Linked DNA regions of Homo sapiens. The protein of the gene in region 1 purifies or fractionates together with the protein of each later gene. This does not show direct contact. Each region holds a gene or a part of one and is shown on either strand. Other genes may lie near its edges.

Region 1 (5,008 bases):
ATACAGGTCTACTACCATTCTTACTTAAAACATTTGGCATCAGATGTTATTTCGGAATTCAAAATTCCTATAAATACATTTTGCAAAGGTCAAAACTTCTCCCTGTCATTAAATAAATCAAATATTTGGGGGTTTTGGTTCTTTTTTATTATTTATTTATTCATTTAGAGACAAGGTCTTGCTCTGTCATTCAGGCTGGAGTGCAGTAGTGTAATCTCAGCTCACTGCAACCTCTGCCTCCCGGGCTCAAGTGATCCTTCTGACTCAGCCTCCTGAGGAGCTGGTACTACAGGTGGGCACCACCATGCCCAGTCAATTAAGAAAAAATTTTTTTGTATGGACAAGGGCTCATTATATTGCCCAGGCTGGTCTCAAACTCCTGGACTCAAGCAATCCACCCACCTCAGCCTCCCAAAGTGCTAGGATTACAGGCATGAGTCACCATGACCAGCTCATATCAAATATTTGTTTAGAAAATGTGAATATTCACATTAAGTGGGATAAGTACATACTGTAAATGGTATTATAATTCATTTGTATATTAACAATTTATGTAATTATGTATGGAGTAACAAATGACAAATGGAAAATAGACTGGTACAGACAATAAACAATGTATTCTCTTTTTAAAAGAAAAATTCAGTAAACTTTCAAATATATATAAAATCAAAGTTAAATACTTGTGCATGTATATGTATACATACACGCAATAAATGTTCATTACATCTGATTGCTTGAGAATCTTAAAGAGAAGGGCCTATCAGGTTGGAATTAGACATTGGTCATGGGCCAGGATCAGGATTCTCAAGTGATAAAGCAACAATATCCAAGATAACCTTTTCAAAAGATTTCTACCAATGTCATCTGTCTTATTAATATATTTCTGCTTAAGCAATGATTATTTACATAATGCCTTCAGTGATCTTCCCATCTGTGTTCACAATATAGTCATCATTTAATCATTCATGTAGTTATTACTATCTTCCCGCTATTGTCAGGCCTCTGAGCCCAAGTCTGCACGTATACATCCAGATGGCCTGAAGCAACTGAAGAATTACAAAAGAAGTGAAAATGGCCGGTTCCTGCCTTAACTGATGACATTACCTTGTAACATTCCTTCTCCTGGCTCAGAAGCTCCCCTACTGAGCACCTTGTGACCCGCAAGAGAACAACTCCCTTTGACTATAATTTTCCACTACCTACTCAAATCCTTCAAAACTGCCCCACCCCTAACTCCTTTTGCTGACTCTCTTTTCGGACTCAGCCTGACTGCATCCAGGTGATTAAAAAAGCTTTATTGCTCACACAAAGGCTGTTTGGTGGTCTCTTCACATGGACGTGCGTGACAATTATGTGCATTTAGAAACCTTTCAGCAATGTCCCCATCACCCAAAAAGTGCCGAACAGAAGCATCAGGATTAATGTTCAGCATTTCTTCAACATCAGCTTCTCCTGACGTATTTATGGTTTGGGCCATTAAATGTATGGTATAATTAAAGAGATTAGGTATCATCACCTCATTAGTGATAGAAAATCTTCCAAAATATCTACAGGTTCATTTTCAAACCTCATTGTCAGCTAAAATGTTAAACATTTATTATTGCTGATTTATCAACATCATTTCAAGCATTAAGTAATTTTGACAACAGGATCTTTACAACTGAACTCTTAAAGGAAGTTTTGATTCCTAGGCCTCCCTTAACTGTGCAAGCAATATACTTGCTTTTTCCCAGAGTGTAGCACTCCTTGGAGAAAAAGATTGTATTCTGGTCAGGCATGGTGGCTCATGACTGTAATACCAGCGCTTTGGGAGGCAGGCTTATTCCTTGAGCTCAGAGGTTGGAGAACAGCCTGGGCAATATACTGAAATCCCATCTCTACAAAATATACAAAAATTAGCCGGGCGTGGTGCACAGCCCTGTGGTCCCAGCTACCCTCAGGAGGCTAAGGTGGGAGGATTGCTTAAGGAGTTCAAGGCTACCGTGAGCCATATTCGTGCCACTGAACTCCAGCCTGGGCAACAGAGCAAGACCCAAAGAAAAAGGCTGTATTCTGGTCACAGTGAAGTAAAAGTAAATGATTAAAAACTATAACCTACAGTTGAGGAGAATGCATAAAAGAGCTGTCTAGAAAGTAAATTTTCAATTAACTCTTGTCATACTTTTAGATATTTTTCACCACACTGCTTCCTAAGTTTCTGAATTCTTCCTTGTTAATACTAAATACATCCTTCAGTAGCAGGTCTTCATATATGCCAGCTTTTTCCATCATCAACAAAGCAATGAGTGGCATCTGTTTACTTCCTATTGTGAAATCCACTTAACCGAAACATGGTTAGAATCTTCATTTTCAGTCCTCTGCAATGTCTCCCTATTTTTCATCAATTCTTAGTCCTTACTACCACTATAAAACGTCCACGATCTGTTTTTCTATTCTTTAAGTCACATGTGGTGGTAGTTCCCACACTGCCACGTTAAACCCAAATTAACAAAACAATAAAAAACACCAGGAATACCTGGTAGGTGTGCCAAGACACAATGGGCACCTCGGTCAGATGGAGTGAGAATTTGTCATCAAATGATTTTGAGAGCCGAACTTAAAGCAAAAAGAAAACAACTTTTTGGTTTTACAGGGCTTTCCAGAGTTCCAAATTGTGACTAGGGACTATGGACCTGTGTCCATTTCTGTGAGTTCAACTGAATTATGTCTAATTCACTGTTATATAGGTGTTTACTTAACACATATCTAGATATTTGGATAGGTTCCATTTTTTGCTATTACAAATAATGCTACAATGACAGGCCCTCATTAGGCAGATTTCTAAAAGAAGAGCTGAGCGAAAGAGTTATACACTCATAACTTTGGTAGATATTGCTACATCGCTCTCCATAAGAGTTTAACTACTTTGTAGTCCTCAAACGATGTAGGACAGTACCTTACCTATTTCTCTGCAATCTTACTAGCAGGGGATATCATCAAACTTTCACATATTCATCAAGAAAGAAGGGCTATCTCGGGTATACTTAATTTGCATTTACCTTATTATGAGTAAAGTTGAGCATCATTCCATATATTTAGAATAATTTATATTTTTTTCTGTGTTTATCTGTTTTTATCCTTTGCCCGTTTTCCCACTGAGTTTTTAGTATCTTTATAAAAGTCAAATTCTAGAAGCTCCTTATATATTAGGGAGTTTGGCCCTTTGTTTATGATATGAATTATGAACATTTCCTCACTTTGTCAGGAAAAGAAAAATTTAATTAGCACCAAATGCCAGATATTAACATATATTCCTCATCATACATGCCATTGTTAATTCATTCAAATAAGAACTTATTGTTAAGCACCACACTAGGTAATGAGCATACAAACATTAAACAGACACAGTCTAAATCAGTCTTAAAGGTAGGGCAACTACAAAAACAATTCTAGCAATAGGACACGTGCTGCAATACAGATATATATGCAAATTCTATGAGATCAGAAAAGACAACACAACTACCTCAGCTTATGGTAAAAGGCTTCCTAGTGAATATGATATTAGATTTGGACTTTGAAGGACATCACCAGAAAGAAAAGGTTAGGGATAGCCATTCCAAAGAGAAGTCACAACTGCAAAGCAAGAGAAGAGCATGATGCATTCATGGCTCACTGCGTGTGGTTGGTGGGTGTTAGACAGGGTGATGGGGTGGAGCAGAGGGAAAAACATGTTAGGGGATGGACTTGTAAAGGAGATTTGTTAGACTACGCATGGAGGGATCTGCTGTCCTGCTGAGGAATTTGGACTTTCTCTCACACGCTATGAGGAGACACTAAAGATTTCTAGGTAGGAAAAAGATACAATCAGACCCACATTTCATAAAAACCATTCCATTAGAAATCTGGACTACTAGGCTAGGTGAAGTGGCTAATGCTTATTCCCAGCACTTTGGGAGGCTGAGGTAGGAGGACCGCTTGAAGCCAGGAGTTCGAGACCAGCCTGGGCAACACGGCAAGACTCCGTCACTATAAAAAAGGAAAGAAAAGAAATATGGGTTATCGGTGAGAAGCAGGGAGACTAGTTTGGTTGTTCCTGTGGTAGAATAACCCAGAGAAAATGATAGCCTGACCTCGGGCAGTGGCTGTTAAGACTAGCCAGCAGAGATTTCGCGCAAGTAAAAACACCCACAGGATTTGGATAACCCACGTTTGCTGGGAAGTGAAAGAGAGAGAAATCTAGGATGACTGTGAGACTTTAGCTGGTCTAAGTAGATGGTGATGTCATTGTAATTGAAATAGGGAATACTGGCAGAGCTAGCAGATTTGGGTAGGGTAGGAATAGGGGGTGGGTAAGGAATGATGGTGTGAACAGAAAATAAATCTTGGGACTCCAAAATCACTAAGCTAAGAGAAAAGTCAGGCTGGGAACTATGTTAGGCAAACCTGCCTCCCGCTTTATTCCTAAATAAGACAGCTACAAGGATGAGAAGCTACATCCCTCCCTCACAATTTGCCCTCAGAAAATTCCTTTGTGGATAAAGGACAGACAGGACTCAAAGTCATCCCTCTGAGGCTCACCTGACACAAATGGATTTCTGATTGCTTCCTCTGCCCTATTGTTTATGTAAACATGCAGATTCACTGAGCCAGACGAAATGTGTGCATTCAGTGGAAGGCTAATCAAGGACTCAAAATAATGCAACCTTTGTCTCTTATCTGCTTCTAACCTGGAAGCCCCCACTGTGAGTTGTCCCGCCTTACCAGACCCAACCAATGTACTTCTTACACATATTGATTGATGTCTCATGTCTCCCTAAAATGTATAAAAGCAAACTGTGTCCCCGACCACCTTGGGCACATATTGTCAGGGCTTCCTGAGGCTGTGTCACGGGTGAATCCTTAACCTTGGCAAAATAAACTTCCTAAATTGACTGAGACCTGTCTCAGATATCTGGGGTTCAAAACGGGTTCAATGTAGATCTTAAAACCTAATTATCTGTGGCTCATCTTCTATCTTAGATATAAGCAA
Region 2 (5,008 bases), on another chromosome or scaffold:
AGGTGCTATGAGGAGACTGTTTTATTACATAATGTGTATTGTTAGCTAGTAGGTGTTCAAAAAAGATTCTTAATAAAGTAGTCTCAGAAAAATGAAAATAGTCCATAGTATCTACTGAAAAAGAGTACCACAAATTCCTAGGAAAGACAGATAGTGGGGGTGTGCCATCTGAAGATTTGCAAAGGCCAATGAGAAGTGACTACACACAAGCTTAGAGTGTTAACAGCAGTCAGCTTCTAAGCTTCTTAAAGCACCACCTTCTCAGAGTTTTCTCACCAGTCATCTACTGACAGTGGCAGAAGTTCAATGATTTTCCTCCCCAGCTCATAGGTTGTCCTCAGCGTTGTTCAACACTCTGCATGTGAACTGATGTGCTGTGACTGTGCTTAGAGTAGTTCACGGGGCTTGGCGGTCAGTCCTTCCTGATTTCTGGCATGCTTTTTCTTAAAATGAGTTTCAACTTCACCAATTTTACCATATTTTTTGAATTTGAGCTCTTAGATGTCCATATTATAAGCTTTTTTGTATATTTCCTATTTCAAAGTTAATAAATGTATACTTTTAAATTCCATTATTTAGAAAACTTCCAATGCTACTGGATTGAATTGATGGTATTTATTATATTTGAATTGACTTTTCAACTGTCTCATAATCTCTATTTCTTAGTTGACCAATCTATAAAGACTGATGGTAATACTGACCAAGCTAACAAAAATGCTGTAAGAAATAATTAATGATAGCCTGAAAAGCAATTTCATAAATCTCGATGGCCTTTGTAATACCTAGGAACAGTAGAAACAGAGAACTTTTAAAAGGGTGCTTAGTGGTACCCAAGAGATCACTCAGTGACTCAATGCTTTGCTGTTACCCTACCCAAATTTCCTCACACACTAGCCCCAAGAAAATATGCAGCCAAAGATGTTCACTAACTTTTAAGATTATGCTTGGGCCATTATTGTCACAGTTGCAAGTTCAAATTTTATTACCGGTTTTCAAGTTCAGAGATGTCTGTCTGTAGCTTAAGATACCACTTCTCAGCTTGTGCAAACAGCTGTCGCAGAAGTAACACATTGGTATAGGCAGTGTTGATGAGCTCAGATTCCACCTCACTATGAACCACAGCTTGTAATCCATTGAGGACTTCAGAGACTTCATCTATGGTGAAGGTGTCCTCCACCAGCCTGAAAAACAACCATGATCCAAAACTTATAGAAAAACAACAAGAAAAATCTACAAAATACAGCAAAATTAAGAAACCCACATTCATGTAATCTAAGAAATTCAAAGATTACAGTGAAAATCTCTCTGGGAACTATCTTCTTTATTAATAAACATTGAAAATAATTTAAACTCAATTAATTTTTGACATCTATTCAAATGATTAAATTGTGCACATCCTTTAATACAAGTAAATGCTCAAACACATTCCCAAAACCATCATCTACTTTTTTAACTTTTTAGTATTAAATGTCTTATTTCAAACTCCACTGAAATCAGTCTTATTACATTTAATAATTTCAAAAGTCACCCGGAAGGCATAGTCTCATTTCTTTCTAATATTTCTCTAACATTTTAATAACTGTATGAACTATTCACAGGTTAGTAAACGTCTATGGGAAATAAATGGTAATTATATATATTGCTTCTCTTTGCATTCTTGAGACCCAAAATAATAATAATAATAAAAACTAGCTTATCTTAAAGTTCTACTGAACACTCCACAAAAATGAATATCATCATCAACAATAGCATTAGAAATCTACTCTCAGGGCCAGGCATGGTAGCTCATGCCTGTAATCCCAGCACTTTGGGAGGCAGAGGCAGGTGGATCACTTGAGGTCAGGAGTTCGAGACCAATCTGGCCAACACAGCAAAAACTCTTCTCTATTAAAAATACAAAAAATTACCTGGGTGTGGTGGCACGTGCCTTAATCTTAGCTACTTAGGAGGCTGAGGCAGGAGAATCGCTTGTAACCAGAAGGTGGAGGTTGCAGTGAGCCGACATCATGCCACCGCACTCCAGCCTGGGCGACAAAGTGAGACTCCGTCTCAAAAAAACAAACAAAAAAACAAAACTACTCTTACATAGAGAATGCTTGGGTTGGAAGAGAACTTTGGTGCCATCTTCTACAATCCCCTAACTTTACAGATAGGAACACAGGTTTGAAGAGTGGAGATGACTTGCCTATGGTTACATTGGTGGTGACTAAACCCCACAATCATCTTCAGCAATGATTCTGGGCAAAGGATTCATGCCCAACAGCTAAATCCTTGAAAAAGCTTCTGTGTGTGCCTTCCAGTTTCAATGACAGTATCACAGTAACACAGTCCTCTCCTCTCCCTACCTCTACCCTCCAAAGTCCCTTCTCCCTCAGATTCTCAGCAGATGAAGAGCAGCTACCGCAACCTCAGCTTTATTTTCTTCCCTACTTCCAAAAAGACATCATCAAGCAAGACCCAGTTACACTAAAGCATTATCATAGTTAAACTCAAGTTAATAGTATTTGTTTTATAATTCTTTAATGTTTCATCTAGCCAGCAGAATTTAGTCATTCTCAAAAAACCACAACTTTTTAAATATAAATCCTTATTAAAATATTAATAATCTTTCTATATTCTTCAATAGAACATATGTTCTCGCCAATTAAATTGTTGCTTTCATCTGCTGGGGGATAGGAAACCAGATTACCAGATGAGTTTAATGGACTGAATGGTCTAAGGCTGATGGCCTCTAATACTGAGACATTCATGAGTTTATGGCAGCTGGAGCTCACTTGGAGGTCTTTTTCACTTATATCTGACTTGACATTCATCTCTTGCTACAAATCAGCTACGGTCCAACCATTATCATCTCATGCTAGAAATCAACTAACAATTTTGGTACTAGTCAGCATTATGATTTCCTGCTGTTTTCCTCTCTACTAATTATTCAGTATGAAACACAGAAGTGTTTTCTCACTAATTGCCATGTCTTATAGCTCTAACCATTTAATTAATAACTCAAGTAATTAAAGTTCTGGAATCTTCAATACAACAAGCCAATCATTAATCCACAAACCCTTGGCAACTTCCTTCTCAAACTCTGCCATCCTACAATTATCCTACAATTATCACATGCATTTCTGACAATAGATTCATTGCTTTCACCACAATACAACTTCTTTTGTTTCCTGTATCCATGAGGCTTAGTGTAGCTGCTCTTAGCAAATAATTGATCATGATGAATCCCAGAAATTGTCTGGCCTCTGCTATGGCACCCCCATACTGGCTACCAGAAAGAATCCATGTTCCTATTTGGTTTGCTTAGAGTCCTCCTCTGATACCTGCTCTCCTTGAGGTCTTGGAAGCAGGAATCTACAGTTTTGAGTCTCAAGCCTCTCTTTGAACGAGCAAAACGCATATAATTAATAACTTCATTTTGATGGTGCTCATTTAGGCCCAACTCTGCCTGAAAAAGAAAGAGGTAATTTAATTGTTAGTTTTGAAGATCTGATCAAAGAGCCAACAATGAAAATGCATAAGATATCCTGTGGTCGAGACTGCTAGATCTCCATCAAATTCTATTCTTCCCTTCTTCCTGGCTGCATGGCTGCCCACCTAGATGACACTTCCTTGCCCTCCTTGCAATCAAGTCACTGCTGACTACTTCTCAGCAATGAATGTTGTGGTCTACTTCCAAAGACCTGGTCTTAAGATATGGGGTGTACCTCTGCCCCTCCCTGTTTCTCTGAAACCTGGAAGAGGTGGCGACTTGACTGAATCATGCAGACAACATCAATGCCCTAGAGGCTGGGGGAGCCGCAAGATGAAAGGGCCCCACGTCTCTACCTCATGGAGAGGCACTGACCCTCTCACTGAACTGAGATGAGCAGTGAGATGGCTGTTAAGTGAGAGCGAAATAAACTTCTGTATTCTTCAAGCCACTTAACCTTACAGCAAAAAACAGCAACTCTGTTATAGCAGCTTAACCCTTACCCCATTAAATACAGCTTTAACAAGTATATTTGATTTGGAAAGAACCACTAACTGGTCTGTACTTTAAACCAGATGACAGCTTGACAAATATTTAAGAGGCAAGCCCATGGAGGTAGGGCTAGCACCCAAATAACAGAGCAGGTCAGCAGTCAGCTAAGAGCAAGGCATCAGCCATGTTAGTTGGATTTGTAATTAAGCTGCTGATGAGATTTACAAAGCAGTTTAGGTGGCATAAGTCTTTAAGGTCTGGAGGATAGAATGGAGATAGCAAGAGTTGAAGGGAAGCAAAAGGGAAATCTCTAAGGTACTCAAGTACAACAGGTTACAGTCATATATGCACTTGAGTTGTGAATAACAAGACAGATTTCTATTACACACTAAAAATAATTGACTACCTACATTAGAGACAATATTATCTCTGATAGTCACACATTAGTATGGGCAAGAATATCCCACAATTTAGAAATATCACAAAACAATGTCACAATTTGCTAAAAACAAAGCATAAATACAGATTCTTTTTTTTTAGAGACGGAGTCTCGCTCTTTCACCCAGGCTGGAGTGCAGTGGCGCAATCTCGGCTCACTGCAAGTTCCGCCTCCTGGGTTCATGCCATTCTCCTGCCTCAGGCTCCCGAGTAGCTGGGACCACAGGCGCCCACCACCACGCCTGACTCATTACTTGTATTTTTAGTAGAGACGGGGTTTCACCGTGTCAGCCAGGATGGTCTCGATCTCCTGACCTCGTGATCCACCTGCCTCGGCCTCCCAAAGTGCTGGGATTACAGAGGTGAGCCACCACGCCCGGCCCAGATTCTTAATAATTATTCACTGTCTATAGTATTACATTTACACTCTTTGCTCTCCCAAAACCTCCCAAACTCTCTTACCCTGTTTCCCAGGATTCTACTAAATGAACACTCTACTTTAGCCACACTAGTCTGCTCATCAGTCCTGAAACATGACTTAAAATTTCCTGCCTTGACTTTCACTCATGTTACTCTGATCCTAAAGTATCTCTCCATTCCTATTTG

The links. The genes of interacting proteins can lie anywhere in the genome.
Region 2: the proteins of SC5D (region 1) and LZTFL1 purify together in Homo sapiens (affinity purification with mass spectrometry; one large-scale study listed by BioGRID and IntAct). This does not show direct contact.

Annotation. Positions count from the first base shown.
Region 1 is NC_000011.10:121,295,053-121,300,060, reverse strand, and holds part of SC5D (lathosterol oxidase), read right to left. Parts: intron 1-5,008. UniProt on the Homo sapiens protein: Catalyzes the penultimate step of the biosynthesis of cholesterol, the dehydrogenation of lathosterol into 7-dehydrocholesterol (7-DHC).
Region 2 is NC_000003.12:45,834,604-45,839,611, forward strand, and holds part of LZTFL1 (leucine zipper transcription factor-like protein 1), read right to left. Parts: intron 3,449-5,008; coding exon 3,324-3,448; intron 1,182-3,323; coding exon 987-1,181; intron 1-986. UniProt on the Homo sapiens protein: Regulates ciliary localization of the BBSome complex. Together with the BBSome complex, controls SMO ciliary trafficking and contributes to the sonic hedgehog (SHH) pathway regulation. May play a role in neurite outgrowth. May have tumor suppressor function.